Linked DNA regions of Homo sapiens. The protein of the gene in region 1 purifies or fractionates together with the protein of each later gene. This does not show direct contact. Each region holds a gene or a part of one and is shown in the gene's direction. Other genes may lie near its edges.

Region 1 (8,193 bases):
GAATTGCTGCTGTGTGTTGGCTGCCCCTCTAAATCCCACAAGACAGGCACCCTCATTTTTCATCTTCATTTTTAAGCTGAGAAACTGAGGCAAGTTGCTCAAAATTAACAGCCAAGGAGGTTGATTCTGATGCCTAAAGTTTTACCTAATCTAAGATTTGCCATACCTGGGAGTCCTCCTGGTCTGAAGACCAGACTATCCGAGTTCCTGCCATTACAGGGCAGCAGAGGAAAACAGAAATCATCGTAACACAAAAACCGTTACTTCACTGGTGTCCACTCACACACCCCTCTCCGCCAAGCTTCAGAATCTTTCCTGTTGAGAGGATGGGAGAGCGTGTCGTGAGGCTGTGGAAATACAAAGCACATCAGCTGCAAAGCCAAACCGTCTATCTTCCAAGAGACATAAGGTTTCAGGAATCTAGGCCAGGCACAGTGCCTCACGCCTGTAATCCCAACACTTTGGGAGGCCAAGGTGGGCGGATCACCTGTCAGGAGTTCGTGACCAGCCTGACCAACATAGAGAGACTCCATCTCTACTAAAAACACAAAATTAGCCAGGCGTGGTGGTGCATGCCTGTAATTCCAGCTACTTGGGAGGCTGAGGCAGGAGAATTGTTTGAACCTGGGAGGCGGAGGTTGTAATGAGCCGAGATTGCACCATTACACTCCAGCTTGGGCAACAAGAGCAAAACTCCATCTCAAAAAAAAAAAAAAAAAAAAAAAACGGTTTCAGGAAGCCCACAAATGGGATGCCAGGGATGCTCAGATGGAGACCAAAGCAGTGGGTCAGTGTGGGAGGCCCTGGCAAAGCTACACAGTCAGGCGGCTGAGAGTGAGGCCACGCCCATGGCTAATGGCCGGATGGTCCTTCAACAAGAAAGGGTGAGACTATTAAACGATGAAGAGAGACGTGGCCAGGTGCGGTGGCTCACGCCTGTAATCCCAGCAGTTTGGGAGGCCAAGGCGGGCGGGTCGCAAGGTCAAGAGATCAAGACCAGCCTGGCCAACATGGTGAAACCTCGTCGCTACTAAAAATGCAAAAATTAGCCAGGCGTGGTGGTGGGTGCCTGTAATCCCAGCTACTCAGGAGGCTGAGGCAGGAGAATCGCTTGAACCTGGAGGGTGGAGATTGCAGTGAGCCAAGATCTTGCCACTGCACTCCAGCCTAGCGACACAGTGAAATTCTGTCTAAAAAAAAAAAAAAAAAAAAGAGAGAGAGAGAGACTTGTGGGGAAATTGATGGTGTCCTTGCCCATTTTTGTAAAACCAATCCTCTTCATCCTGGAGCTGGGAAAATCACACACAATGGGAAGGATAACGTGTGTAGCGATCATACAATTTGTCGGAAAAATTACAATCCTACCAAATCGGCACTTGACTAAGTCTTTGTTGGTTCTACAAATGCACACACCATAGCATTATCACCGACAATTTATTGAATATAAGACAAATTTAAGATACTTTGCTTTTTTTTTCATTTTTCAAAATAACTCCTTGAACTCTTTGCCCCACAATTGGCACCATTACTATTAGATTCCCATTTTATGTGAATGCACTTGAGTGAGTCTTTCTTTCCAGTTCCTTTACCCTTGGGTACTGGAGAACAGTCAATGGCATGCAATGAGGTCCTCTTCCATTCTTCTAGATATATAAATTCTGCCCAGGCATCCATCCAGGCTGCCAGAAAGTCCCTGGACCACCACCTCAGCCTAGGACAACCTTCCACCTCTCATTTCTTTCCTACTGTCTTTATCTTAGATCTAGACCCAAACCACCCAAACAATCCCTCACATAAGTGCTTAGCAGTGTCATCAAAAACAACATCCAGGCTGGGTGCTCACGTCTGTAATCCCAGCACTTTGGGAGGCCGAGGCGGGCAGATCACCTGAGGTCAGGAGATTGAGACCAGCCTGGCCAACATGGCGAAACCCAGTCTCTACTAAAAATACAAAAATTAGCCGGGCGTGGTGGCAGGTGCCTATAATCCTAGCTACTCATGAGGCTGAGGTAGGGGAATCGCTTAAACCTGGGAGGCGGAGGTTGCAGTGAGCCGAGATCGCACCACCGCATTCCGGCCTGGACGACAAGAGCGAGACTCCATCTCAAAAAACGACAACAACAACAAAAATCCATCTTGTTCTTCAACATCCCTTTTTTAAAGGTGATAAGTTTATTTCAGAGGGTTTTCTTTGAGAGGACAGGATCAGATTTCTTGTATCTATTTGCCTACAGAGAGGGAGAATACACAAACAGGTGAATAAAAGCGAGTGAACCTTTTGAAGATTTCAGATGGCAAAGCAATCCACTGGCAATTTGCTTGTGGGGTATGTGTGGGTGGATGTGTGTTTAAATTTAGAGCCGACAGAAACTTAGACTTTCCTGGGAAGTTGATATGCTTCCTGTTTTTTGAGTATTAGAACCATGAAACTCATCATCTCTCCTTTTGTGTACTGGCTGCAAGAATGCTCAAAAATGAATTTCCCCTTGATTTATGTCTATTTTGATCATTTTCTGTATGCATGCTTTTTATTTTAGGCCTCCAGAAATCATCATTGGAAGGAGCATGCTTCATTTGACTTGACTTGGATTGGATACGAAGTCATCAAATGGTGAGAAGAGGGAGTCAAGATCTTCCTTGGAGCTTCAGTGGTGTAAATGTCAGAGGTGTTTGAACCAGAGCAACTTCATCTTGAATAGGGGCTGGGTAAAATGAGGCTGAGATCTGCTGGGCTGCATTCCCAGACAGTTAAGGCATTCTATGTCACAGGATGAGATAAGAGGTCGGCACAAGCTACAGGTCATAAAGACCTTACTGATAAAACAGTTTGCAGTAAAGAAGCTGACCAAAACCCACCAAACCAACATGGCGATGAGTGTGACCTCTGGTCGTCCCAGCTGCTACACTCCCACCAGCGCCGTAAGTTTACAAATGCCATAGCAATGCCAGGACGTTACCCTAAAGGGTTTAAAAAGGTAAGGCACGAATAATCCACCCCTTGTTTAGCATATCATCAAGAAATAACCACAAAAATGGGCAACCAGCAGCCCATGCTGCTCTGCCTATGGAGTAGCCATTCTTTATTCTGTTACTGGTGGAGGGTGTCCAGGTTCTTGGCATCTTGAACAAAGAATTGGACAAAATGCACAAAGCCACCGGGCGCGGTGGCTCACACCTATAATCCCAGCACTTTGGGAGGCCGAGGCGGGCAGATCACCTGAGGTCAGGAGTTCAAGACCAGCCTGGCCAACATGGCGAAACCTCGTCTCTACTAAAAACACAAAAGTTAGCCGGGCATGGTGACGCACGTCTGTAATCTCAGCTACTCAGGAGGCTGAGGCAGGAGAATTGCTTGAACCCGGGAGGCAGAGGTTGCAGTGAGGATCACGCCACTGCACTCCAGCATGGACAACAGAGACTCTGTCTCAAAAAAAAAAAAATGCACAAAGCAAAAAAAGAATGAAGCAACAAAAGCAGAAATTTTTTGAAAATGAAAGTACATTCCATGGTGTGGGGGCGGCCAAAGCATAGAGGCTCAGGGCCCCATTACAGAACTTGTGAGGTTTAAATACCCTCTAGGGGTTTCTACTGGTTACTTGGTGTACGCCCTATGTAAATAAAGAGGATGAAATAAAGTTACAAAATCATTTACTCAGTGTACACCCTATGGAGAGGGTATTTCCTGTCATAGCTGAAGTGTTCCCTGCCTCCAGACCCTGTTTTCCTGCCTCAATTCCTTTACTTTTCTAATAAACTTGCTTTCACTTTGTGGACTCGCCCTCAATTCTCTCTTGGGGTCTGGATCGGGACCCCTTTCTGGTAATATAGACAGAAAATACGGCCTTGACATGGTTGTCAGGAAACGACAGTAAGGCCTCCGAGGGTGGGGTTCTGAAGGGATGTTAAACGCCCCACCCCGAGGAAGGCTCTGGAGGCTCCAATCACTTTCAGCCTCTGCTACCAAGATGTCCGACCCTACCAATAAAACTTCCAGCAGCGGGGCGCGGTGGCTCACGCCTGTAATCCCAGCACTTTGGGAGGCCGAGGAAGGCAGATCACCTGAGGTCAGGAGTTCAAGACCAGCCTGACCGACATGGTGAAACCCCATCTCTACTAAAAATTTAAAAAGTTAGCCGGGCCTGGTGGCGCACGCCTGTAATCCCAGCTACACAGGAGGCTGAGGCAGGAGAATTGCTTGAACCAGGGAGGCGGAGGCTGCAGTGAGCCGAGATCGCGCCACTGCACTCCAGCCTGGGTGACACAGCAAGACTCCGTCTCAAACAAAACAAAACAAAAAACCTTCCAGCTTGGAGAAACTGAGAGTGAGCAGTAGGGAGTGAGGGGGTCCCTGGGAGGAACCAGAACTCATCCCGCTTCAGGGTGGGGCTGGCCCCCTTCTTGGCCTTGGCCGGGGCTTCGTGTCACGGAGCGCCCGAGGGACGGTCGGAGCCCACCCCAGCCCGCCCGCCGCCTGAGCCTGGCCGAGCTCTCTGCACCTGCACACGTCTGTAAAACGCGGATGAAACGCTTCTACGGAACCGGGTGGCTGAGATGAAGTGAGTTATGGGTATAAAGCGCTTAGAGCGATGCCTGGCGGACACTCGGTGCCAAATAAGCGTTCGCTGTGGCGACGATGACGCCTCCAGCCCAAAGCCCGTGGTCGAGCAGGGCCGGGCTCCCAGCGCTAGGGGGTTCCTAGGCGCGGCGCTTCGGGGGTCCTGGACACAGACACGGGGGACAGAGCTCCTACCAGCGACGATCCCGAGGGTCTGCAGCAGAGGGGCTGAGGCCCGGGACGGGGGTGGTCGCAGCGCCCTTTCCTGAAAAAACGGGGTTCGGCTCTAAGGCGCCCCCAAGCCCTGCCGGCAGCGCGGAACCCGAGCCGCTCAGAAGCCCGGGAGCCCCAAGTCTCCGGGACCAGAAGCGCCGCGGCCCTGACTTCCGGAAGGTGGACGGAACCCGCGGACGGGGCGGGCCCGCGTGGCGCACGCAGAGCCACTTCCGGGCGCGGCGCCGGCTTGGTGAGCGCGGGTACCCGCGGGCTTCCCCGGGCGGCTGCGTCCCCAGTAGCCCGGCCGGCCTCGGCACCGCGTGTCGTGGGGGTCCCGGGCCGCGGCTGCAGGGCCGGGGCGGCGGCGAGGCCGAGGGGCGGGAAGCCACTGCCCGGCCTGGCAGTGTGAACGTGCAAGTCGATCCCCTAACCCAGAAAGCCCCAGGCGCGGTCTCTATGGGCGGCCCCGCTCCTGCTTCTGTTTTATTTTTTTACGGACAGGGTCTCGCTCTACCGCCCGGGTTGTAATGCAATGGTGTGATCACGGCTCACCGCAGCCTCGACCTCCCGGGCTGAAGCGATCTTCCCGCCTCAGCCTCCTGAGTAACTGGGACCACAGGCGCGCCCTGCTGGTTTTTTTTTTTTTTTTTTTTGGTAGAGATGGGGGTCTCGCTATGTTGGCCAGGCTGGTCTCGAATTCCTGGCCTCAACGATCGTCCTGTCTCGGCCTCCCAAAGTGCCGGGATGACAGGCATGAGCCACCGCGCCTGGCCCCTTCTTTTGAATGGGCCTCCTTGCGTTTCCGTTTCAATGCCCCGTGCTACTTTTTTGGGAGCCCCAAGGCTGTACTGTTTGATTGACTCCTTTTTTTCCCCTTTCTTTTTAACCTAAATTAAAGCTGCCACTGCAGAGCCCCGCCATGGAAGACACGCCGTTGGTGATATCGAAGCAGAAGACGGAGGTGGTGTGCGGGGTCCCCACCCAGGTGGTGTGTACGGCCTTCAGCAGTCACATCCTGGTGGTGGTGACCCAGTTTGGGAAGATGGGCACCCTGGTCTCCCTGGAGCCCAGCAGCGTGGCCAGTGACGTCAGCAAGCCTGTGCTCACCACAAAAGTCCTTCTGGGGCAGGATGAGGTAAAGTGGATTGGCCGGGAACTGTGGCTCACGCCTGTAACCCTAGCACTTTCAGAGGCCTAGGCGGGCAGATCGCTTGAGGCCAGGAGTTTGAAACCAGCCTGGGCAACACAACAACACACACACAAGTCACTACAAAAAAACAAGTGCCTACACAAAATATATATATAGAGAGAGGCTGGGTGCAGTGGCTCACACCTGTAATCCCAGCACTTTGGGAGGCTGAGGCGGGCAGATCACTTAAGGTCAGAAGTTCCAGACCAGCCTGGCCAACATGGGGAAACCCCATTTCTACGAAAAATATAAAAATTAGCTGGGTGTGGTGGCACATGCCTGTAATCTCAGCTACTCAGGAGGCTGAGGCAGAAGAATCGCTTGAACCCGAGAGGCGGAGGTTGCAGTGAGCTAAGATCGTGCCACAGCACTCCAGCCTGGGTAACAGATAGAGACTTGGTCTTAAAAAAAAAAGGAAAAGAAAAGGAAACAAAAAATTAGCTGGGCCTAGTGGTGTGTGCCTGTGCTCCCAGCTACTTGGGAGGCTGAGGTGGGAGGATGGCTTGAGCCCTGGAGGTTGAGGCTGCAGTGAGCCATGATTGTGCCACTGCGCTCCAGCCTGGGTGAGAGAGCAAGACTCTGTCTTTAATAATAATAATAATAATAATAATAATAAAGTGGTCAGGAAGGGACCCCCAGGGAGGAGCATAAACCTCTCCAGTGGCTGTGATTTGTCAGTAAGGACATGGGGCATCTGGCGGACAAATACCCCTACAGCGATAGCATTTTCCGGGCATTTGTGGGTCTCAAGGCGCCCTGCTTGCCCTCAGTGGATGCTTTGTCCAGCCCGCAGGCATTTTATCCAGCAGACAAGCAGAAGCAGCAGTTTTGTCATTCGAGCCGCCTCCCCTGCCATGGTACATTACGTGAGCAGGCGGCTGGCTGTGCTGTGCTCTGTGGAGATCACACGTGAGATTCGACAGCACTCGCTTCTGCAGGCTTCTCTTTCCTGGGTTCTTTTAGATGAGAGAGAGCCAGAAGAGGCGGGGCTGCGGAAGGCGCTGGGAAAATGAATGGAGTGATGGTCTTTAGCAGTGTGCCCGTGACTGGAGTGTTCTGAGTGCTGCCAGAACTCTGAGTCACAGTTGCATGGACTTATGTGGCGGTTAATGGTGGTGTGGGAAGCCTGCCTGGGTTCCTAAGGGATACTTCATGAAAGCATTGAGGAAAAAACCAGGTTTCTTGCAGTTAAAATGGTTTCTTCTCCTTCCTTTACCAGCCTCTCATCCATGTCTTTGCAAAGAACCTGGTAGCGTTTGTGTCTCAAGAAGCTGGAAACAGAGCAGTCCTCCTCGCCGTGGCCGTGAAGGACAAAAGCATGGAGGGGCTGAAGGCGCTGAGGGAGGTGATCCGGGTGTGCCAGGTGTGGTGACCTGGAGGCAGCCGCCCCGCGCTGCTCAGCAGGACACGTGAACACCCAGACACCCACTCAGGGACTCAAGTCTCACCTCCCTCCCCGGTGGAGGGAGGAACTTTGGCACTAGCCCTTGGAGCCAGGAAAAAAGACTCGTGTCTCAGGCAGACTCTTACTCTGGTTACTAAGATCATCTGTGCATGACGGGGAGGGTGGAACAGGTCCCGGAGGAGTCGTGAATGGTTCTCACCAGGACCTGAATCGTTGCTTGTGTTTGAGAATTGGAGGAATGAGTCAGCAGGCGTGGCTCATGGCCCCCCCGTGTGCAGGATCAATTGTAGGAGGAAATTTCTTTTTTATTAAAAGCGAATGTGTATCCCAAAATACTTCACTGTCCTCCTTAACAGTAGCGAGACATTGCAGCCGCACAGCATGAGTTCAGTTTCATGGGCTTCATGAAGGGAAGCTTGTTGGGCAGAAACGCAGAGGGACGTAGTTCCCAGGAACTGGGTGGATCCCATGCTTGGGCCTGTGCACGCTGTCACCCAGCTCCAACTCCAGTAACTTCTCTGAGCCTGCTGGGAAGCTGGTGGCCGTCAGCGGACATCTCTTACTATCTTAATGTGTGTGCCCGTTACCGTGCTGCAGCTGGGGACAGACGCTGTCCTCTGAATCCTGCATAGCAAGGGAGGGGGGACGCTTCTGTCAAGGGAGCAGCGTGCACAGAGGTCAGGAGAGAGGAGCACGGGAGGGCAGGGCACTGTGGGGTGGGTCGCCAGGGTTCACTGGGGTGTGGCTGAACATGACCTCCGTGTGGGGGTAGGCGCGGGTCCTTCTGGGCTGAGGCTGCAGGACTTAGTCTTGTGGGGAGCAGTGTTG
Region 2 (7,000 bases), on another chromosome or scaffold:
GACAGCATGAGCAGAGGGGTGCAAGGGTAGGAGATAACGTGGCTTGAGCCAGTGGGCTGGGCTATACCTGAGGGATTTTGTTGGAGAATAACGAGTAGTGAAGTTGGAAGGGAAAAGTGGCATCAGGATATGAAGGCTCTGGAAGTTTATTTGGATATATTATAGGCAGTATAGGGTGATGTTAATTCTTGAGAGAAGAAATATAATGATAATAGCATTTTATTAGATCAGTCAGGTTATAACATTAGAGATACATTGAGAGAGATTAAAGATGAGAGAGGCTATTGAAGTATCTAGGCATGGAATATGAATAACATTTGTTCATATTTGGCAGGCACCATTTTAAGCATTTTATAATATATAATGTGTTTACCCTTCTTATTATTATTGTCATCCTCATTTTGCAGGAAATGGGCATAGAGGAGTAGATGACTGGGAGTTACGTAGAGATAGAGATGAATTCCAGGTATATTGTGGACTTCTAGCGACCTTAAATAATTAATAGTTTTACGTTGTTGGTGGTGATGATGGTGGTGGTTCTTTTCGTCCCTCCCTACCTTCCTTTATTACTTTTTTGGAGGTCAGGTAGGTTGGGGAATATCATCACCTCTTGGGACAGACCAAGGTAGATGGCAGAGGTGAAAAGAGGCCAGGTCCAGAGAAGACATTAAGAGTTTTATTACTTTCTTGCCCACTATGTTTAGAACTTTTGAATCCTCCGTCCTCCAAATATTGGCATTAGAGAGTGGATTTTTCCAGTGTTTGAAAGACTTTGTTGAACTTACTCTTTTGGGGTTCTGGGAATTACATGGGTAAATTATAAAGAAAACATTAAAAATTTTAAAAAAATTTAAGGGAGAAAAAAGAACTTTTTAGAATCACAAAATTCTGTAAATCAATGTTCTTGCTATTGACAGGAATAGTATATTAATTACTTACAGTATGTTAGGGTGCTCCTTCTCTCTGCCTATAAGATGTGGCCAGTTGAAGTTTCTATCATGTGAAGATTTACAGAGAGCTATCTGGTGAGTATGTAAGACAGTTATTTGACCTATATATGGTAATCATAACATGTTTCTCTTTAGCTTGGTTCTACAGCCATTGGGATCCAGACATCAGAGGGTGTGTGCCTAGCTGTGGAGAAGAGAATTACTTCCCCACTGATGGAGCCCAGCAGCATTGAGAAAATTGTAGAGATTGATGCTCACATAGGTAAGGAGTGGAGGAAAGCTGTTCTGTAGGATCTGGTCTGGGTTAATTAGTCCTCTATGATGTTCCAAGGAAGGTTTATGAAATGAACACGTTATCCCCTTGTTAGCTATTATTTTCCAGGCAGTAGGCCAGAATGCGTAAATGTAGGAGTAGGAGGCTGTTGCAGGACTCATTTATGTTTAACCTACTCCCATAAGTTCCTTTCCCCTCAAATTTAGACTTGGTAAATGTGATGGTTGTTGAAATATGCAAAGGTTGAGATCTTTGAAGTGACTACAAGTTATAAGAATAATATAGACTTGCCTAGATCAGTCTTCCTCCTTTGTTTTCAGATTATCTTTGTATTCCTTGTTGCCTCTGCCCACTTTTTTGGTCTTTAATTCCCCTGCCTTGGCTTCTGACATCATTGTATAATAGTATTACAGGGTGAGTAATTCTACTTATTTATAGAATGGCATTTTATTTGGCTATCCAAATTTTCTTAACCTGTCTAGTCATCTAATTAATGAAGCATTGGCAAAATAATTAATTGCTTGAAGGCATCAGAACCAAATGCCATGGTGACTCTGGGAGCTTGATATTATGTCTTTCATAGATATAGAAACTGAAATTTTATCTTTTAAGATTGGAACATTGTGTCTTCTTTAACTCAAGTCACTTGGTCTTTTGAAGGTAGCTCAGTGTCACTGTGTTCAACAAATTGAGAGCCTACAATGTGCCAGACCTTATGCTAGATACCAGGATATAGAAAGGAATAAGACATAGTCCTTGTTTTACAGGAGCATACAGTCTAATTGTGGTGGTGGACATGTAAGTAAGTCAATGCAATTAAGTGACAAAAGTATTAAGAAAGACTAGTGTGTTCTTAGTAGGAGTACAAGGGAAGAAATAATTAGTTTTGCCTGGAGTCAGCGGTAGTGGGGCTTTCAGAAAAGGATTCCATGAAAGTGATTTTGAGCTGAGTTTAATTCTGAAAGATAAGGAAGTGTACACAAGGCAAACAAGTGTCTGGGTATAGCAAGGGAGAGCATTCTAGTCAGGGGGAATAGAAATGACTGAAGCCATCGTGGTGTAAAATATAAAATACCATGTCACAAGCAGTTTTGTAGGCCTGGGCCATGAACTGCAGCAGCAGAGTCGGTCAGAGAGCGGAATTCCTTTTTTACCACACTGAAGGGCTTCAATGTAATCCTTTTGCAAGGATGGGAAAGGTTTTAAGCAATGAGGTAATAGGATCCCATTATAATTTTAGAAAGGCCATTCTGATAATGATATTAAAGATAGACTAAAGAGGGCTGAAACTGGAGGCACGGAGGCCAGTTGAAAAATTTGTAATAGTCCAAACAAAGAGATGGTGAAGGTTTTAACCAACACAGTAGCCAGAGAATGGAGAGGAAGATAGAAATTGACAGAACTTGTGATCTGATTGATTGTGAGGGCCAAGGAAGAAGACGGGGTCTGGAAGGGAAATGAGTGTGTGATATGTCCAAGTAGATATATTAAGGAAGTTATTTGGCTTTATATGTCTGAAACTTGGGAGAGAAACTTAGGCTGGAGATTTAGATTTGAGCCATGGCATGTACAATAACAGTTATAGCCATAATCGTGACAGCTTGGGCCATCAGGCAAACTCTCTCTGATATAACTAGTTGCTTTGTGTTTGGGACAGAGAGGCAAAAGGCTTTTGATTTATTCGAGAGTCCTCCACTGTAGTCCATAGTGAGGTGATTTTCTTTTCCTTGTTTCCCAGGTTGGGGCATTAGTATTTGCTTCGTTTGAAAATGTATCATCGTCTACAAAGAGTGCTAAAGGGATGCTTAGGGATGTAATATGTGGAAATTCATGTTTGGTTAGCTGCTTTTCTCTGGGCTTATTTTTATCGTCTGGACTTCTGTGTCATTGTGGATGGTTTTTTGTTTCTAATATCATTAATACTTGGGTTCAGTGCAGATCATTTCCTATCTAATCTTTTGGGTATAAAATGCCATGGGATAGCTGAATGGCTGCCGTGGTTCCAATCCAGAATTTCAGGATTTCCTGAGTGGATGAAAGAGTTTTACAAGGATTTGGCCACTGGGTCACTGTCGCTTTTACATTGCAGGTTGTGCCATGAGTGGGCTAATTGCTGATGCTAAGACTTTAATTGATAAAGCCAGAGTGGAGACACAGGTAAAATTGGCATTATCTCCTTTTTACCAGGATGCTTGAGTTCCTTGTTTAGTGATTATCTAGCTGCCTGGGCTATACTGCAGGTACCTGTGTCAATATTAGATGTGGCTCTTGGGAGTAATTTTGGGTAGAATTCCCAGTTAGAACTTCCTGGGGCTTGGAGTTTAGCTGTCCAATCATTGCAGTTTTAAAGAGGCTCTGGTCAGTAGTGCTGACAGTGTCTTCCTTTTTTTTTTGGCTTTGCCTATATATAAAGCATGCATTGTTTCCTAATTGACTTTGTGTGGGAGCATCATGGCAGGAGGTGGACGTAGTTAAAGGATATTCTCCCCTCAGCTGCCTTTGCTGCCAGGCTTGTAAATAACAGCCCGCCTTTGGTGAGTAATAACTTGTACCAACTGACAAATACTGGTCAGGGATACTGTTTTTTTTTTTTTTAAACTTTGTAGCTGCTGCTTGAAGATAGGCTAGTAAGAAAAATACATCACATGGTAAAATTTTTTGTACTTATTTGCAAGTTTGCTGTCTGTACTTATGTAAGAATAAGTCATTTGAACATCAACAGAATAAGCTAGAGTCTTTGAGGGAAAGAGGCACTTTTAGTTTTTGAAAGAGTAAACTTGGTGCTTTGAGGCATAACCCTCTTTTTCAAGGCAGTAATTCTCTTGTCCGTCGTTGCGTAGAGTCCTTGTGATATGTTTATTTCCAGAGCTATTTCTCTTCCTCTCATGTACTCCCAAGTACTCAGGGTTAATGTTAATTAAGAAAACCACATTTGAGCCTTCAGTTTTCAATCCCAGTTTAAAGGGATGTGCGTAGTGAGATGGTGGGCTGCTTTAATGTCCTTATTAGAAGGTTGTACCATGCTTTGCTCTTCTTCTAGAACCACTGGTTCACCTACAATGAGACAATGACAGTGGAGAGTGTGACCCAAGCTGTGTCCAATCTGGCTTTGCAGTTTGGAGAAGAAGATGCAGATCCAGGTGCCATGGTGAGTGTGATACTTCTGTCGAGTTTTCTTATTGTTCTATGGGACTTAGGACATTTGTCCTGTGAACATAACATTCCCAGCCCCTCTCACCTCCTTACTTTATAGCCATTTATCTTAATATCTCTTATTTTTTGGTTCTAGTCTCGTCCCTTTGGAGTAGCATTATTATTTGGAGGAGTTGATGAGAAAGGACCCCAGCTGTAAGTACCATTTTGTAATTTTCCCCCATGCTTTTGCAGGGAATTATTTTAATTTGGGGTGGAGACTGAGAAGATTATTGTAGACTGTTAGCCAGGTATTAGCACACACCTGTAGTCCCAGCTACTTGAAGGCTAAGGCAGGAGGATCTCTTGAGCCTGGGAGTTGTTATCCAGGCTGTAGTGAGCTATGATCATGCCACTGCACTCCAGCCTGGATAACAGAGCCAGACCCCATCTCTTTAAAAAATACATTAAAAAAAGATTATTGTAAAAAGGGCTATTGTAGAGTGTGTGTGTGTGTATGTATATACATATATATGGCTTCTAATACTAAAGTTTAGTGATTCTATACCGTTTGCACAAATTTGGGGATTCCATGAAGAATTCCCCTATTGGAACCAGTGCTAATTCTGGAAGGAATTAGAAGTAACTTGTTACTATAGTCAGGGTATGTTTTAGAACTTTGCTCTGGAATGTTGATCTGATCCTCATCCTCAAATATTTCTAAGATAGGCATAAACAAGTACCATATTTATACATACTATACTTCTAAATCCCTAAGGAAGGTACTAATTTTCTTAAACAGTTTTTAAAATGTCTGGTTTCTCCAGACATAGAACATCTTTTAGATCTGTGCCTCAATATTTCAGTGGTGTTTCCTGGCTGCAGGGCCAAGCATTTATACTTTGTTTTAGTGAGACGTTTGTTACATAAAGTGCCACCACTCCTGAGCATTTTAGTCCTCATTTTGGGGGTTTTGCAGGTTTCATATGGACCCATCTGGGACCTTTGTACAGTGTGATGCTCGAGCAATTGGCTCTGCTTCAGAGGGTGCCCAGAGCTCCTTGCAAGAAGTTTACCACAAGGTAATTAAGTATTCTCACAACTCTTACTATTTTTTTATCATGGTATAATTTACATATAATAAAATGTGCAAACCTTAAGAGTTCAGTTCTGTTTTGACAATTGCAAAACAAGATAAATAACACTTTCATCACCACCAGAAAAATGCTCATCCACATTCCAGTCAATCTCTTTCCCTCCCTTGCAACCATGTTTACCACCATGTTTACCACTCTCCATTAGTTTTGTCTGTTGTGCTTTGTTATAAATGGAATTAAACAGTTAGTCAGTTTGTATCTGTTTTGTTTAACACACTGTTTTTGAGATCCATTCATGTTGTTCCAGTATTTCCGTTTGATGGCTGAGTAATATACCATGGTATGGATGTACCACAATATGTTTATCCTCTATATTCACAGCTTTACTTAGCACTTTACAATTGGCTCTTGAAGCAAGTGGGCATTTGGTATTTTCTTTGTGAGATGGGAAGATTTGGTTTTGGGTAACTCATTGGTGTGATTGAAGGCTGCTCTACTTATTCAGGTGGTTCATACAGGGATGCCTGCTCACATTAGCTCCTAATGGTATTGCTTTTACATGTGGAAGAAATTAGGTACAAAACAGGGTAAATTTGAATTTTCTAAACCATTGGGCTACCTCTTAGATCATTTGGGCATTATTGTTCATTGGATATTACCAATAATATTATCTTCTAAATTAAAAGAGGAATTCAAATGTACACAAGACTAGTCTATCCCTTTCCCCTTCTTCAAAGATTACTTTGGTTGGTGACTTTATTGTGGCTCACAATAAGGTTTGGGGGTTTTTTTTCCTGAAAAAATGTATTCTACTTATTTGCCATTTACTTGAGTTCTGGAGATACTTGTAATGCACCATACTAAGTAAGATGTTTGACATACTTGCTAAATACTTTTTTCAGTGAGATAAAGGGAAAATCTTTGAAGGAAGGACGGATTGTGCATAATTAATAGGCATCTTCTTGCCTTCTTTGTTTCAAGTCTATGACTTTGAAAGAAGCCATCAAGTCTTCACTCATCATCCTCAAACAAGTAATGGAGGAGAAGCTGAATGCAACAAACATTGAGGTACTTTCTGTTTTATTGTTGGATTTTTTTCGGTTTTTTTTTTAAGAGATGAGGTCTGGCTATATTGCCTAGACTGGTCTTGAACTCATGAGTTCAAGTAGTCCTCCCACCCCAGCCTCTCGAGTAGCTGGGACTACAGGTGCACACACCATGCCTGGTTAATGTTTTTTAATTTTTTTAGAGATGGGGTCTTGCTGTGTTGCCCAGACTGGTCTTAAACTCCTGGCCTCAGGCAATTCTCCTGCCTCAGCCTACTGAGTACCTGGGACTATAGGTGAGAGCCACTGCACCTGGCTGTTTTATTGTTTTTTATTCAGATATCATAGCTGGCATTGCTGAAGACTACATAGATCATGGAAATGACATTTTTGTATGTTTAGTTCCTAAGAAATTATTAACAGCCTTTGAATAATAAGCAGCTTCAGTAAAGTGGTGCTGGCAGAAGCCAGAATTCAGTGAGTTAAAGAATGAGGCCTGGC
Region 3 (7,815 bases), on another chromosome or scaffold:
TATTCATTTATTTATTTATTTAAACAGAGTCTCACTCTGTTGCCCAGGCTGGAGTGCAATGGGGTGATCTCGGCTCATTACACGCGCCTGCCACCATGCCCGGCTAGAAATTTTGTATTTCTAGTAGAGACAGGGTTTCGACATGTTGGCTAGGCTGGTCTCAAACTCCTGACCTCAGGTGACCCACCTGCCTTGGCCTCCCAAAGTGCTGGGATTACAGGCATGAGCCACCACACCCAGCCTATTTTTTATTTTTTGTAGAGACAATGTCTCACTTTGCCCAGACTTGTCTTGAACTCCTGGCTTCAAATGATTCTCTCACCTAGACCTCCCAAAGTGTTGGGATTTCAGCTGTGAGTCACCGTGCTCAGCCTAAACTTCGACTTTTAAAAGTTACATAACATCATCAATCTGGTTATATTTTATAAATGAGAAGGACCATGTCTCATTTTCCACTATATCATCCCAGCACCTGCCTAGCATAACACTATGCACATAATAGGTATTTAAGTGTGTATTACTAAAGAATCAACAATGAAAACAGTCAAAAAATAATATCCAGGGAAAATGAATAGCAAACAGAATATTGCAAGAAGGTGGATAGTAGTTTAAATTGAAAAGAGCAGTGGGAAACAAAATAGAGATTCCTCCATTATAAATCTCTCCTTACAGAAAAAGTCATTATTATTGTTTCACAATAAAACATAACAAAGATTTACTCAATTAAATGACAATTTATTACTGTTTCTTACCCAAGCTTTCTCTGTGTACTTCAAGTAAAAAGCCATCATGAAAATCTGGTTCACAGGCACATGGAACAGGTTTAGAACGAAAACGTTGGTTTCGATAATGTAAACATAAAGTAAACGTTGAACAAACTTGTCCAGGTAAAGGCTCAGGTTCTTGCAGATGTTCCAAGAAAGCTTTTCCACCCAAAACCTGAAGGTAAAGATACCTCCGTGTTGGATCAATATTAGCTGTAAAGTGTAGCAATATATATGAGGAAACTGCCAAATAACTTAAAAGAATGTGATCAAGACATTAGGAAATAAAAACTTGACAGATAAAAACCCAATACCAAAGACTAAAAAAAAAGCAAAAGAGTAACAAATTTATTACTGTATATGCCAGAATCATTTGCACTCTGGGGAGAAGATACACAAAATATGATATTCTTTTCTGAGTTTACATCCAGGCTACTTTCTCCCAGCTGGAAAAGGCATCAGAGCCAATATGTAGTATACTTTTGCTTTTTAACTGCTTATCCAACATTCCTCCACCTTCACAAACCAACTCATATAATTATCAATTCAGCAAGTGTATTTGTCAATTATATTAATATTTAAAAGCAAGGCTGTACAGTTTTTATAAAACATATTATTAAAACACAAGAAACTGGTGATGCTGTTTTTGCTTCTACCGTGCTATACATTAACTCTTCTGATATACTTCATGCAAAACAATCTGTTTTAGCCAACCATAAAATTTTAAGTATTTTATTTTGGGGGGAAAAAATGGAAATGTCTTCTATCAAATACGAAAGACTACACCACATCAATATTTACTATTAACCACAACTAAATTAATGTTAAAATATACATACTTTTTTTTAATGTCGATTGTCTATCAAAACAAATAGGTTGTTTTGGAGAGGAAGGGAGTTCTTGCTCAACACTGTCCTAGAAAGGCAGGAAAAAAAAATCAAAACAAATTAGAAAACAATTATAGGTTAAGGAAATGTCAATAAACATGACTAAGCACTGAACCTAAAGTCAACAGGGTAAGGCCCTTTCAAAGAACCCCTTATTTTCCTAGCCTAATTAAAATAATGAAAATAAAAGCCTGCATAAAAGATGATGTAAACTGATCACTCCTAAAATCAAATGCTAAGGAATTAAACTGTCTTCAAGTAATACTATCCACATAAAGCTAAAAACAAATCCTTAATACCTTCAACAAGGTTAAACTTTCTGTAAACCTTATGTAACAGTTGGCTTATAATTCCACTATGAGCTGATTTTAATAAAGTGTCATCACAGAGTAGAAGCTGTTATTAGGTCAATTTTTATAACAAACGGGTTCATAAACTTCAAAAACCAAAAAAAGGTGCTGTATTAAAATACTTATTCCCTATTGTATTATGAAGTCCATCCAATTTTCACATTATATTACCCAGGTATTGAGGTCACAGTTTCCATTATTGCCTCACTTTCAAATGAAGGCCTACTTACTAATTGTGCACTGAGAGACTATCATCCCATTATTGACCTATTTGTATTAAAAGATTTGAGGACTCTTATGCAGTCAATTATTTTCTTAAAGAAATTTGTAATTTGTTAATCATAGAGAATATAATCCCAAAAGAGTGCTTATTTTAAAAATACGCTTAATCTAAAAAAGTTACAGATCATAATGAAAAAGAACTTTGTTATGGTGAACTAATTGGACTAAAGTATGTATATTCAAATTTACAGACCTAGAAAATAAGAGAAAATTCTGTCACTGTAGAGACAGGAATAAGATATCTAACACAAATTTCATTGATACACAAAACTATTCAGTATATTCAAGGGCAGAGCTAGCCTATACTTGAAACAAGGACACTAGTAAACAGAATGACCTTGAAGTGGTTTTACTAAAACGAAAGGCCCCACATCGGAACCTTATAAGTAGTGTTACGCATTAGTATATACATATATACTCTCATTTATTTCCCTAAAAGATTACTCACAGTAACAAAATTAAGTTCTTTCATCACATCGTCAATGATTCCTCGACGTCTAAGGGCTTTGATCAAATCTTCTGTTGATAAATGCTGTTGATCAGGTGCCAATTCTTCCCGTATAGTCTCAGCAAGGATTTCTCTTATTCTACCATGGACATCCATCTATGTAGAAAACTCATATTACAATTTATAACATCACAAAGCAGTCAAATACTGCTTCTGAAGTTTTAAGGTTCTCCAGCTAACAGTAAATGCACAATTGTTACCACAATTGAATGGGAACAAAGGTAAGCTTTTAAAGAATGAATCTTTTGAGTACAAATTCTAGAAATAGTCTCCACTGGTTATCTGGCACCTTTGTTACCATTTCTCCACAAACAACACTCAACCAAAAGGAATCTTCTGAGAGGGAGTATAGTATAATCAGAAGAACACGGACTGGGAGTAGGCAGATCAAAGTATGATCTTATTACTTTCATACTTTGATCTGCCTAATGATAAGGGAATCTTACCAGCTTTCAACTTAGTAGATGTGTAACCTCAAGCCAACTTATTTACCCTTTATAAATCTGTTTCGTCACCGATAAGAATGGAAAAACCTAGTGTAGTGCCCTCTCACGATAGTGTTGTGAGGATTAAAGATACTAGACAGCACAAAGCCTGGCACACAAGGGCACCATAAATGGTCGCTTTTATCACTTCAGCATCTTGCACTCAGTCGAGCGAGCGCTGCAGAAACTGGAGGTTCTTCTGGAGCTCCGAAATATTAACAAATTCCGTCATTACAAACCCTTTAGTAACTTCTCTTCCATGACTTATTTGAGAATTGCTGATTGAAGCTCCTGGTTCAACTTCGCTGATACCCACATGTTTCAGCGGTAAAGAAACCCTGATATCTGCCGGGCGCGGAGGCTCACGCCTGTAATCCCAGCACTTTAGGAGGCCGAGGCGGCCGGATCACGAAGTCAGGAGTTCGGGACCAGCCACACCAACATGGTGAAACCGTCTCTACTAAAAATACAAAAATTAGCCGAGCGTGGTGGCGCGCGCCTGTAATCCCAGCTACTCGGGAGGCTGAGGCGGAGAATCGCTTAAACCTGGGAGGCGGAGGTTGCAGTGAGCCGAGATCGTGCCACTGCACTCCAGCCTGGGCAACAGAGAGACTCCGTCTCAAGAAAGAAAAAAAACCTGATATCTTACAGCAGAATATAAACCTCCAAATACAACTTACACTCGATCCGACTTCCAGAAGTCGCTCGCTAAGCGCTTCATTCTCACGGCCGTCCTAAAACGCCAAGACCGCTCGTTCTATCGCCCCAGACTCTTGCTAGCACCTGCTCGGCTCGTTTTCTTTCTCGGAGACGAGGACGCTCTCCTGCCTCAAACTCAAAGCTCTGCCTACTCTGCGTTGCGCACCCCACAATCCTCGCTACAGTCCCGGCAAGCAGATGCCGCTGTCGGCCCGGGGCCGCCGGGCAGGAGGGAAAGGTTATGGGTCGGCCCGGCGGTCTCTCCCAGCACCCGCGACTCTCACCTTGCTCAGCTGCTGGTGGATGAGCTGCTTCAGCTCGGAGGCTTTCTCCGGAGGCAGCGACATGCTGGCAGCCGGCGTCTCCCCGCCGCTTCTCCCCGCCTCAGATGCCCTAACTGCGCGGCCCCGGCCGGGCCAGGGAGCGTTAGGAGCGACTGGAGCACAAAGCGCCGCAGCCGTTCGCCTAGCGCAGCTCCCGGGGGACGCAACGCCGCGTCAGGCCGGGGGCTGACCTGGAAATGAGGCCCCGGCGGCGGCGGCGCCAACTGTTTTCAAACAGTGGCGGACAAACAGGGCTTGGGGCTGGCCCGCACGCTGCCTGATCGTTTCCGCCCGCCGCTCCACCTCCCCGCGGGCCCCGCACCCCGAGACCTCAGCGCACCCCATCGCCTTGCTTGCCAGGGTCTCCGAAAGCGCTGCTGGCCCCTCTTCGCGGCCACCCGGCGGCCTCTTTCCGCCCTCTGAACCGGCAGTTAGCTGGACGGGCCTCAAGGGCCCGGCGCCCAGGGACTCAAAGGACCCTCCCGCGCCCCGCGAGGCTCCGGGGTCTCGGGCTTCCGCCTTCTTGCTGCCCTCGTTCTTGCCAGGGCCGCGGTTAGTCCCTGCTGGCCACCCCACTGCGACCATGTTCGTTCCCTGCGGGGAGTCGGCCCCCGACCTTGCCGGCTTCACCCTCCTAATGGTGAGTCTCCATTTGCGCTCGGGGCTGCCGCCTCCCGAGGCCCCTGCGGTGTCGCCACCCCGACGCGGGGTGTTTGGCGGTGCCTTGGGAGAAATAGGGCACTAGTTTCTATTTCATGTTTTCGGCCGGAAAAAACAGGGAGGTTGTAGCCGGAGGCAGCCGTCCAAACAGAACCTTTGTCGGCTGTAAAACCAAACGTAGTCAAGTCTACAATTTGTAGTCTCTGTTTCCTGTAAAACGTGATGTGTTCGTACGTTCTAGATACACTGTACTTATGTTTTGCAGGGCATCCTTCAGTTTTATCCTAGAAAGTCTTTCTACGACTAGTTTTAGAATTAGTCTTAAGCTAGCATATTATCGTTGTTAACCGGAGAACTACTGATAGGGCAATAAACATTAACTCTTGCCGGTAGTTAGCGCAGTTTTATCGCTCTTTATATTCATTCATTGTTTTAATAAAGTCTGTTATGTGCGAGTATTAGAATAAGACTAGGTGCGTGCCCTCAAAGAATTTACACTGTAGTTGGAAACATGTAATCTAAGAGCAATAAATGCTAGGCTAGAAGCTTGAAAGGGTATAGAAAGGTCCTGAGATAATTGGGAGGGGAGGGACAGATGGCTTGTTAAGAAAGGCTTTATAGAGAAAGTAGTATGCAAAAGATGGAGGGCCCGTGGGCTGGGAGTAGGGGAAAGTAGGCGTTTCAGAAAGATGGATGTCTAAAACAGAGTCAGTAAGCAGGGGGACTTGAAGACTGCCAAGAATTTGGAATGACACATTGAGAGAGAATAGGCTGTAGGCCCTGTGAACCCAGAAGGCACCATTGGAAAATGCACTGTTTGGAGTGGTATAAGGCTGGAGAGAGCTGGAAGTGTCATCCTTATTCATTACATATAAAACACACAGCCCCAGAGAAGAGTGTTTCAAAAAGGAGGGAGTGGCCATGTCAAAAGTAGCCCAGAGATGTGTAAGGTGAAGAAAGTGTATGTTTGGATTTAGCGACATGTTAATGATGGTCACCTGGACAAACAGTTACCAGTGAAGTGGTGAAGAGGAAAGCCATATTGGAGTGGGTTGAATGAATGATAGAAAACAAGTTAAAGATTTGGGTTGTATAATATATATTCAGTCATTAATTCAGAGACAGGCATGATGGCTCATGCCTGTAATCCCAGCACTTTAGAAGGCCGAGTACAGGAGGATCGCTTGAGCTCAGGAGTTCAAGACCAGCCTGGGCGACATAGTGATACCTCATCTCTACAAAAAAATAAATAAAAATTAGCCAGGTGTGGTTTCCTGCACCTGTATCTCAGCTACTCGGGAAGCTGAGGTGGGAGGATCACTTGAGCCCAGGAAGCAGAGGCTGCAGTGAGCTGAAATCGTGCCACTGCACTCCAGCCTGGGCGACAGAGTGAGACCCTGTCTCAAAAAACTTTTTTTTAATAAGAGATAAAGTTTCTGCTTATGTTTTCGTGGACGACTTGGAGAATTTTTGCTACATAGAGAAACAAGAAATGAGGTTGCAGTTAGAGGGCTATGTGGGGTCAAGGGAGAGCCTTTTAGAATGAAAGATATTAGAGCATGTTTACGTGCTGATGGGAATAATACAATATTGTGAGGAAAAGAAGGATGGTACAGAAGAGTTTAACCCAAGTAGCAAAATCGTTGAGAAGGGAATTGCAGGAGGTAACTAGGCAATTGGTAGGTGACAACAGTGAAAAGTGGGAGAACATGCTGAGGGAACACCCGAAGGACAGAAAACAAAAGGAGTTGTTGGAAGAATGCAAAGGAGGAGCTACATTAAAAGGATACTTGGGGGATAGCCTCAATAAAAATTAGGCATGTATTAGATGTAGTTGGTAAGGGAATGGGAAGAAGTTTAGGTAGATTGAATAATATTGAACTTTTTTTTTTTTTTGAGATGGAGTTTTGCTCTTTTTTGCCCAGTCTGGAGTGCAATGGCACGATCTTGGCTCACTGCAACCTCTGCCTCCTGGGTTCAAGTGATTCTCCTGCCTCTGCCTCCCGAGTAGCTGGGATTATAGGCATGCACCACCACGCCCAGCTAATTTTGTATTTTTGGTAGAGACAGGGTTTCACCATGTAGGCCAGGCTGGTCTCAAACTCCTAACCTCAGGTGATCCACCTGCCTCGGCCTCCCAAAGTGCTGGGATTACAGGCATGAGACACCATGCCCGGCGCCCTTTTCTAAAATACAAAATATGGGGAAAAATTTGGGCAAAAGTTTATAGTTTTGGACATGTGGAATGTGAGTTTCCTGTGACCTAACCATGTGGAGACGTCCATTAGGTTGTGGAGCTCCTACGTGTTCTGGGATGTAGGTAGGGATTTGGCAGCTTCATTATTTTAAGTCATGGGAAAAAGAGAGAGAGAGAGAGAGAGAGAGAGAGAGAGTGTGTGTGTGTGTGTGTGTGTGTGTGTTTAGTGTGAAAAGATCACTTCAACCTTTCGGAATGGGTAAAGAGGCACTAATAAAGCAAATGGTAAGCAGACCCAAGAGTGCTTCTGTTCATACCTCGAAGCCTTTACACTTGCTTTCCCACTGCCTGGAATGTTCTTTCCCAGATCTCTGTACGGCTGTCTCCTTTACCTTTTTCAGGTCTCTAGTCATTTGTCACCTAGGGTGAGTCTTTCCTCGAACACTCTACTTAAAATTGCAATCAACCATGTACACACATCCTCACACTCACTTTATTTTTCTCCGTAGCAATTACCACTGTATATTTTAGTGTTTGTTTTGTTTATTACAGGTAAACCACTCTCACTGGAATGGAAGTTCCATGAGGGCATGAACTTTTGTTGGTTTATTTTACTGCATTCCCAGTGCCTAGAGCAACAATTGACATATAGTAGGCATT

The links.
Region 2: the proteins of PSMG3 (region 1) and PSMA5 purify together in Homo sapiens (co-immunoprecipitation; 4 studies listed by BioGRID and IntAct, with this or other methods). This does not show direct contact.
Region 3: the proteins of PSMG3 (region 1) and PSMG2 purify together in Homo sapiens (affinity purification with mass spectrometry; 6 studies listed by BioGRID and IntAct, with this or other methods). This does not show direct contact.

Annotation. Positions count from the first base shown.
Region 1 is NC_000007.14:1,566,837-1,575,029, reverse strand, and holds PSMG3 (proteasome assembly chaperone 3), read left to right. Parts: upstream 1-4,997; 5' UTR 4,998-5,690; coding exon 5,691-5,906; intron 5,907-7,179; coding exon 7,180-7,332; 3' UTR 7,333-7,698; downstream 7,699-8,193. UniProt on the Homo sapiens protein: Chaperone protein which promotes assembly of the 20S proteasome. May cooperate with PSMG1-PSMG2 heterodimers to orchestrate the correct assembly of proteasomes.
Region 2 is NC_000001.11:109,409,449-109,416,448, reverse strand, and holds part of PSMA5 (proteasome subunit alpha type-5), read left to right. Parts: intron 1-1,085; coding exon 1,086-1,212; intron 1,213-3,313; coding exon 3,314-3,381; intron 3,382-4,264; coding exon 4,265-4,372; intron 4,373-4,513; coding exon 4,514-4,572; intron 4,573-5,335; coding exon 5,336-5,438; intron 5,439-6,434; coding exon 6,435-6,521; intron 6,522-7,000. UniProt on the Homo sapiens protein: Component of the 20S core proteasome complex involved in the proteolytic degradation of most intracellular proteins. This complex plays numerous essential roles within the cell by associating with different regulatory particles.
Region 3 is NC_000018.10:12,698,227-12,706,041, forward strand, and holds the start of PSMG2 (proteasome assembly chaperone 2), read left to right. Parts: upstream 1-4,815; 5' UTR 4,816-4,881; coding exon 4,882-4,938; intron 4,939-7,815. Other genes in the region: CEP76 (centrosomal protein of 76 kDa), read right to left, coding at 753-977, 1,604-1,679, 2,732-2,887, 4,260-4,322. UniProt on the Homo sapiens protein: Chaperone protein which promotes assembly of the 20S proteasome as part of a heterodimer with PSMG1.